Linked DNA regions of Homo sapiens. The protein of the gene in region 1 purifies or fractionates together with the protein of each later gene. This does not show direct contact. Each region holds a gene or a part of one and is shown on either strand. Other genes may lie near its edges.

Evidence for each region. Proteins that work in one complex are often made in the same cells at the same time.
Region 2: the proteins of MATN3 (region 1) and EDIL3 purify together in Homo sapiens (affinity purification with mass spectrometry; one large-scale study listed by BioGRID and IntAct). This does not show direct contact.

Annotation. Positions count from the first base shown.
Region 1 is NC_000002.12:20,009,869-20,013,796, reverse strand, and holds the start of MATN3 (matrilin-3 precursor), read left to right. Parts: upstream 1-1,128; 5' UTR 1,129-1,165; coding exon 1,166-1,388; intron 1,389-3,928. UniProt on the Homo sapiens protein: Major component of the extracellular matrix of cartilage and may play a role in the formation of extracellular filamentous networks.
Region 2 is NC_000005.10:84,382,081-84,386,337, reverse strand, and holds the start of EDIL3 (EGF-like repeat and discoidin I-like domain-containing protein 3 isoform 1 precursor), read left to right. Parts: upstream 1-1,457; 5' UTR 1,458-1,963; coding exon 1,964-2,030; intron 2,031-3,799; exon of another isoform or gene 3,800-3,916; intron 3,917-4,257. UniProt on the Homo sapiens protein: Promotes adhesion of endothelial cells through interaction with the alpha-v/beta-3 integrin receptor. Inhibits formation of vascular-like structures. May be involved in regulation of vascular morphogenesis of remodeling in embryonic development.

The DNA of each region.
Region 1 (3,928 bases):
TTTTAAGGCTGAACAGTATTCCATTGTACGTAGATACTGCATTTTGCTTTTCCATTCACACAAAGAGAGACACTTGGGTTGTTTCCGCCTCTTGGCTATTGTGTATAATGCTGCTACCAGCATGGGGTACAAATATGAGAAGTGAGGTTTAGGATCGTGTGAGGAGGATCACTTGTAGAGGGAAAATAGTGAAATAGGACGACCAGATAGGCTCTGTTGGAACTCGCGCCCATTGTTTTAAGACGCAGCTCAAATGTCACCTGGTTTTAGAAGTCTTCCTGGTCTCCGCAGGCAGTCAGTATCTCTTTCCTAAATCCACCACATTCCCGTAGACAGACACCACATTTATGCAAATCTCCTTCTCACAGACAGTGAGTTCCATGGGGGTCCCCTGGCAGCCTCCAGCCCTGTACCATGCTAACTCTTCCGGAGAGGAAATGGGGCCTCGGGAGAGCCTTTGAAGCCTGTGTTGGTACAGGCTGTCCTTCCAGCTAACGGGGCTCTCTGGGGAATGTATGTTTGACTTTCTATTCCCGGTAATATAAGTTCAAATGTTTGTGGATATTTGAAGCTCGGATGAAAGCGTTTCTATTCATGCCCCTAGAATCTGTGAGGCCTTTTCTTTCTTTTTTTTTTTTTAAACAAGAGCCCACAGCAAAACTTGGGTTACTTGGCTGAGGAAAGGAATGTAGAGCTAGGAGCAGGGTTTCATCTTCAGCCCCAGTCGGGCAAACCAGTGGCAGAAGGGAAAGCAGAGCCCAGGGGTCCCCATCCCGTACCTGGGGCGCAGGCCCCGCTGGGGTGGGAGGGAGAGTGGAGGGCCGGGCAGGCTGCAGCCGCGGATGGCTGCCCCCCCTGCCCCGGTGTTACTGGGAGGACGGAGGTTGCGACAGCAGCCGAGCCCACCCAGTTGCAGCCGGCTCGGGGCTTAGGGCAGGGGCGGGAGGTGACCACCGCGCCGCTGGCCGCCTCGCCCAGACATTCCGTTTCTGCCGCTGGAATGCGCGGACAAGGCTCCTTGTTGGCCTTGGGCGGGGTTCGCCGGGCCGGCCTGGCGCTCGAGGCCCCGGGGCGGGGCGGGGCCCGAGGCCGCGGGACCTTTAAATCCGAGCCTCGCGTGGGCTCCTGGCCCCCGACGGACACCACCAGGCCCACGGAGCCCACCATGCCGCGCCCGGCCCCCGCGCGCCGCCTCCCGGGACTCCTCCTGCTGCTCTGGCCGCTGCTGCTGCTGCCCTCCGCCGCCCCCGACCCCGTGGCCCGCCCGGGCTTCCGGAGGCTGGAGACCCGAGGTCCCGGGGGCAGCCCTGGACGCCGCCCCTCTCCTGCGGCTCCCGACGGCGCGCCCGCTTCCGGGACCAGCGAGCCTGGCCGCGCCCGCGGTGCAGGTACAGGCGGGCGGCGGGAGGGACGCGTGAGCATCGAACGAGGAGAAGCCCAGGGCATCCACCAAGCGCGCTTCATCCCGGCCTCAGGCCGACCGTGGTGCGGGGGAAAGAGGCCCCTCCCGGATGAATCCTGTGGGGGAAACTGAGGTCCAGAGAAGGGGAGGGAGATGCCCAATATCACTCATGTGTCCAGGCTAGAGATGTGGGTCTCCTGAAGCTCTCACTCCCCTGTGATTCGGCCAGGAGCACAGGGCAGCTGGGGAGCGCAGGGGCTGCTGCCCAGCGGCTGCTGCTAAGCTCCGTCCCAGTCCTGACCTCTCCATTCAGTGAGCAAACCCTTCCTGAGACTCTGCTGTTAGTTCTCTTGGAATCTCTCCATCTCCATCCAATATCAGGGCGTGATCTTTCCTCCCCTCCCACAGTCCTCAGGCTGCCTCAGACTGGAAGGTAAGGGATGCGGGTGTGAGACCAGGAGGAGATCCGAGGAGCCGTAGGATACCCCAGGATCAAGACACTCTGGGTCTTTGGCGAACAATTCTATTTCTCTTTTTGGTCAGCAATTGATTCCTGAAGCAGAGCAAAGCTCATAGTGCAGCGAAGCGGGCAGGTCGTCTGACACAGCCCCTGACAGCACATGAAGGGAAACTGAGGCATATCAAGTTGAAGGGACTCTGTGAATCAGTATCAGAGGCCACAATAAAATTCAGGGCTCCGAAATCCCAAGCAAGGTCTCTTTCCACTGCCCCAGCCTACCAACCTCTTAATATGGTTTACATAAGATTGTATCTTCATTTCCAAAAAGCGCAGCTTCAGTCTTGCTAAAAAGAGTCTGTGCCAGGCCATTTCTGGGTATGCAGTCTCATTTGGCCAGCCACGCTGCATGCCTCAGGCTGATTTCAATTGTCTATCCCCTTCTGCATCTTTCTGGATAAGCTGAGAAGGAGCTCAAGGGACTCTTTCCTGACTCAAATACTCAGTCCCCGTATTTGAAGTGGCAGATTTGAAATGGCAAAAGCATTGCTGCTAAGGCAGGAGGTACCGGGGTCCACAGGGCTAGATTCAGCTGGTGGCTGGTTGCTCCAGGCCGGGAATTGAGGGAAAGCCTTTCTTCTGGAAGTTAATCTTACTCTAGTCCTGACCTGCCTCCCTCTGGGATGGGACTGGAAGAGGAAGGAGAGATTCAGCACCAGGTGGCCATGTCCCCCTAAGCTTTACTGGTCTTTCATTACCTAGAGTCCGAACCTGATCATGAATGATAACCCATTAATAAATGCGAGATTCCACCCTGTTCCAAATTATCTCCTTTTAGCAACCAGAAATTGCTAAGCTTCGCTATGGATTTTTATTTCTAGCAGGACTGTAAGGACTCAGTGGTATTATGAGTATGGGAACATTTTAGGAGATTCAGATTCTTTCTTTGTTCTTGGGAATCAAATTGCTGCTATTTAGTAAATGGGAGTGAGATTCAAAAACAACTAATGATTGATGCGGAGTACCAGTCAGGAAGGAACCAGATGTTCACAGAATTTTCTGCCACCATGGTCAAGCCTCAGGTATTAGTTTTCTATGGCCACTGTAACAAATTACTGTGAATTTAGTGCCTTAAGACAACACACATTTATTACCTGAGAGTTCTGTGGGTCAGAAGTCTGACCCTGGTCTCACTGGGCTAAGATGAAGGTGTCGGCAGGGCTGTGTTCCTTTTGGGAGGCTCTAGGGGAGACTGCATTTCCCTTCCCTTTCCACCGCATGAAGGCTGCTGAGTTCCTTGGCTTATGGCCTTTTTCTTCCATTTTCAGAGCCAGCTAAAGCAGGTTGAGGCCTTCTCCCATTGAGTTACTCACATTTCTTTCATCTGCCTCCCTCTTCTACTTTATAATTACATTGACTCACTGAATAATCCAGGATAACCTCTTGTGTAGAGCTCTTTGACTTAATCACACCTGCAAAGTCTCTGCTCTTTGCCACGTAAAAGTAACATGTCTCTGGAATTAGGACGTGGACGTCTTTGGCGGGGGACATTATTCTGCATACCACACCCCGAATAGAGGATTCGGTGTGAATAACCAAGTGGAGAAGGAAAGAATCATGCACGTTTAGTTATAAGAACATAGCCATGATATTTATAAGGACACCATTTGGGTGCTGGTGAAAGCACTGTCAATTACAGAGTTCATATCTTCATGTTACCCCCACCTTTTCTTTTTCTAATTATACAAAAATACTTTGACCCATCTCCAGGAAAGATTTTCAACATAATTCTTCTTCCTAGCTCTAGATCTATGGGACTTTCCAGGAATGAAGTAAAATTCTGGAGGTTTTTTTTTTTTTTTTTTTTTTTAGTATTTGAAGAGATTTATTCTGAGACAAACATGAGTGACCATGGTCTGTGACACAGCCCTCAAGAGGTCCTGAGTACATGTGCTCAAGATGGTCAGGGTGCAGCTTGTTTTTATACAATTTAAGGAGGTATGAGACATCAATCAAATACATTTAAGAAATACATTGGTTTGGTCCTAAAAGGTGGGACAACTCAAAGC
Region 2 (4,257 bases), on another chromosome or scaffold:
CAGTAAATAAATGAATCTCTCTCATTCTCTTAGCAAGGTGATTTTTTAAAAAATGTGTTTTAACCCTCCCACCAATCGTGAGATATGAACAAACCCTTTCTGAAAGGTGTTCTTTTTTTTCTTTCTTTCTTTCTTTTTTCCGTTGTTTGCTTGTCAGTTATACAATACCTTAAACCCTCCCTAGCAGTATTCAGCATTACGGTTCCATTCACCTCGCATTCTTCATTTCACTTAAAATTTGAAAAGGAAGGTAGAAATTTAAGTTTAAAGGACTCATCTCACCTTTAAAGGACTCATCCTTTAAAGGAGGCAGATGGAGATGTAGTTCCATGGCTAATTGCACTCTGTTATTCTTTTCTTAGTAGATTCACCTTTCAACTCTTTGCCTTCGAGAATGTTTCTCTTTCAATTTCTCTAGCTCTGTGTTTGTCTCTCTCCCTACCTCCCTCTCTAGAAGACAAAAAAAAAAAAAAAAGAAAAGAAAAAAGGAAAAGAAAAAAAAAAGAAAAAAAAGAAAAAAGAAGCCCTGTTTCATTTTGGTACCTGTAACTGCTGGAATTGGATCCATGTACAATAAGCAATCATTCTAACCGAAAAACAGAGAAGAAAGCACAATTGTAAGCCATGAGCTGTATTTTTGGTTCAATCACTTCCACTGCAAAAACCAGTCCATTTATTTTGGCGGATAGAAAGAAAATTTGATCCACCTTAGTGATGCTTCAAGGGTCTGTCTTTGCCTTTATGTTCTTGCACAGTTCCCAAACTTGCCCCACTTCTTCTCTGAAACAGATGTCCTGCTTAACGAGATGCATGTCTCCTACTCACTTCCACCCTTTTGCCCCCGTGAACAGATGAGCCCACAACCCTCTCTCCCCAGCCCTGGAGCTAACTAAATTGTAGACAGAGCAGCAGAGCAGCCCTGTCTTAGCTGATTAGGGTCTGGTTGCTGACTACGTTGCAGTTCCTGAGAAATACGGGGCAATTCACTTTGCAGGGTTCTGTCTCTCATGCAGTTTTGTGCCCCAAGAGTCACTTTTCAAAATCTCTTAACTTCTGTTCCTGGTTATACTGAGAAAGGAAGTTCAGGGGAATCCTTAACGTGGTTAATTATAAAGTCAGTGCTGGAATCCAAGGGACTCTCAGGCAGCAAGGGTGCAGCTCTTAACCCCACAGTCTCCAGCATGTGCGGAGAAGGTACAGGCAATGCAGGAACTTCAGAGGTGGTGGCAGGTGCTAGGTGCTAGGGTGTGGCTGCAGTTGTCTCCCTTTTCTCTTATAGCAGAAGGAGCTGAAAGAGGAGGGGAGGAGGGAGGAAGGAGAGAGAGAGCAAAAGAGAGACAGAGAGAGAGAGCAAAAGAGAGAGAGAGGAGGGGGAGACCCGGGGAGTGAATAACAGGGCGGGCGGAGGGCGGGCGGGCGCCGGGGGAGTGGGGAGCGCGCCTGCCAGGCTCAGACTCACACGCACGCCGCCTCTGTTTGTACACAGTGCGCTCCCGGCGGCCCGCTCGCTCCCCTCCAGCTCACGCTTCATTGTTCTCCAAGTCAGAAGCCCCGCAGCCGCCGCGCGGAGAACAGCGACAGCCGAGCGCCCGGTCCGCCTGTCTGCCGGTGGGTCTGCCTGCCCGCGCAGCAGACCCGGGGCGGCCGCGGGAGCCCGCGCCCCGCCCGCCGCGCCTCTGCCGGGACCCACCCGCAGCGGAGGGCTGAGCCCGCCGGCGGCTCCCCGGAGCTCACCCACCTCCGCGCGCCGGAGCGCAGGCAAAAGGGGAGGAAAGGCTCCTCTCTTTAGTCACCACTCTCGCCCTCTCCAAGAATTTGTTTAACAAAGCGCTGAGGAAAGAGAACGTCTTCTTGAATTCTTTAGTAGGGGCGGAGTCTGCTGCTGCCCTGCGCTGCCACCTCGGCTACACTGCCCTCCGCGACGACCCCTGACCAGCCGGGGTCACGTCCGGGAGACGGGATCATGAAGCGCTCGGTAGCCGTCTGGCTCTTGGTCGGGCTCAGCCTCGGTGTCCCCCAGTTCGGCAAAGGTAAGGCGTCGGGACCCGGACAGCTGGGTGAGGGATGGGCTGGGAGTCCCCTGAGAAACGCCGCGCAGGGGGCCGGAGGCGGTCCCTCCGGCGTGCCAAGGGTGGCGAGCGCCGCTGGCGGCGCGGAGGAGGCGTCGAGTCCTGGGTGCCCCGAGAAAGTGCTTGTAAAGTCTGAGCAGAGTGCGCGGGGCCGAGCGGGGAGAAGGGTGCGGGGTACCGGGGTGAGATACAGGAAAGAGGAGGACGGTGGGGAGCGGTAGAAGACAGCGTCCCCAGGACCAGCGACTCTGTGGCTCACTCGGCCACTGGGTCTCGGCGCAAACCCTCCCTAGGCAGTGCGGGCGATGCTGACTGCAGACGTCGGGCAGGGCTTTCGTGCGGGCGGGAGCGGGGGAAGCCAGTGCGCCCGGGCGTCAGCTAGTTGATGCGGGAAGAGGCTGGGGAGCTGCAGGGCCGTCCGCCCCCGGGTGCGGTGCTCTGGCGCAGGGCCTGGGCTGAGCCGTTCGCAAACCCAGACCCGGCGCTGGGCGTTTTGGCCGCGGGTGAGGTGGAGAGGAGTCTCACAGGTCACTTCAGCTTTCTCCTGCCTCCCCATCCCAGAGGAGCAGCATCGATTACAGCAAACCCCAGGAACCCGCCTCTCCTAGTCTGACCCCAGGGGCCTGGAGCTTAGCTGCGCACCCCCTCCGAGTACCAGTGTTAACTCTTGGTAATGGGGAATAGTGCGGGGCAAGCCACCCCTCGCGTCCCCGCACAGGAGCGGAAAAGTTGTGAGAGCTTGTAGGGTGATGCCTTCTGTGAATTGCACGAAAAAATAAAAACAGAAAAATAAAAATCAAATTAAATTAAAAAGAAAAAAGCATTTAAAAGAAAACGCAGGACTTCGACGAGTGTCCTGCTGGAGTAGTTTAGGCGACTTCCAGGTCCCCTGCGAGGTGCAGCTTGTCCATACAAACCCTTGTGCTGACCTGGGTCTCACCGCTGGCCGGGGCTGAAGTAGTCGCCGGAAAAGGGCAGCGGGGGCAGCAGGGTGTGTGGGGAGGCGAGTGGGAGCTGTGCCTGGGGGAGCTGTGCCACTCCTGCGCTCACAGATGCGGGCGGCCCCTTGTGAGGGATCCGCGGGTAATAGAATCCTCTGCAGGCAGCTTCAAGTGGAAAGCTGAGTGAACTACAGGGTTTTAAATGCTGTGCCTCTAAAAAAGGTAGATGGATTTAAAAATGCGTTGACTCCAGTCCACTTGAGATTAGACAGAGTATGAATATTCTGCACCATCCATCCATGCACCTATCCATCTATTTGAGTCACAAGAAAATTGTGGACTCTTGGGCGACTGTTCGCCCAAGAAGCCGGGTGTTGCTGGCCAGATGCCCTCGCAGCTCTGGCAGTAGAGATCCATGGCCGCGCCTTGCCTGGGCCTCCCTCCGTCCCCCAGAATGTGGTTATTTTCCCCCAGCGTGTAGGCGTGTGTGTAGGTGTGTGCCTCGCCTGCGTTTACAAAGTGCCCTTCCAGTTAATAGGCAAAGGCAGCCACTCCACTAAAGGTTAAGAAATGGTAATGGTTCCAGTAGTTGCTCGGCCGAGTCTCCAGCGATATAAAAAAGAGAGTGCTTCCACGGCTGCTGTTTTTCCTTTCTCTCATTTCCCGTCTGGATTTCCTCTGCACTTTGATCTCTTAGCAGGAAGGGAAGGGGGAAGGACTGCAGGCACTCCCCTCTCCTCCTTCTCTTCCCCGCCTACGTTTCCACCCCAAACACGAAAACACACTCACCCACTCACTCGCATTGTGTCACCGCCACCACCGTACGTCCCCGCTCCGAGGTGGAGGGCGGCGCGGGGTAGAGGAGAAGATAGTGCGTCTAGCCTATGTGGCCGCGCTTGCCTATGTGGCCGCGCTTGCCTGGCTGGGTCTGATTGAGGGAGCCCCGGGGCGCGGCAAGTCCCGGCTCGCTGCAGCCAGGAGCTCTGTCTCCTGAAGATACCCGCGCCGAGGGCACAGCTTACTCCGCCAGACAAGCCAACCATGGAGATGTTGCCTGGACTCTCCATCCTGGTTCTCTTAGACAATGCTCGGGAAGCTGGATGCTCCATATTCTTCAGGAGATTTCTCCCTTTTTCCCCCAGCTAGCTTGTGAGGACAGGGGAAAGGCTTGAGGAAAAATAAATAGACCATTTTGCATTAGCCCTTTCTGTTAAAACTTGCACCTCTCTAATTTTTTCTCCCTCACC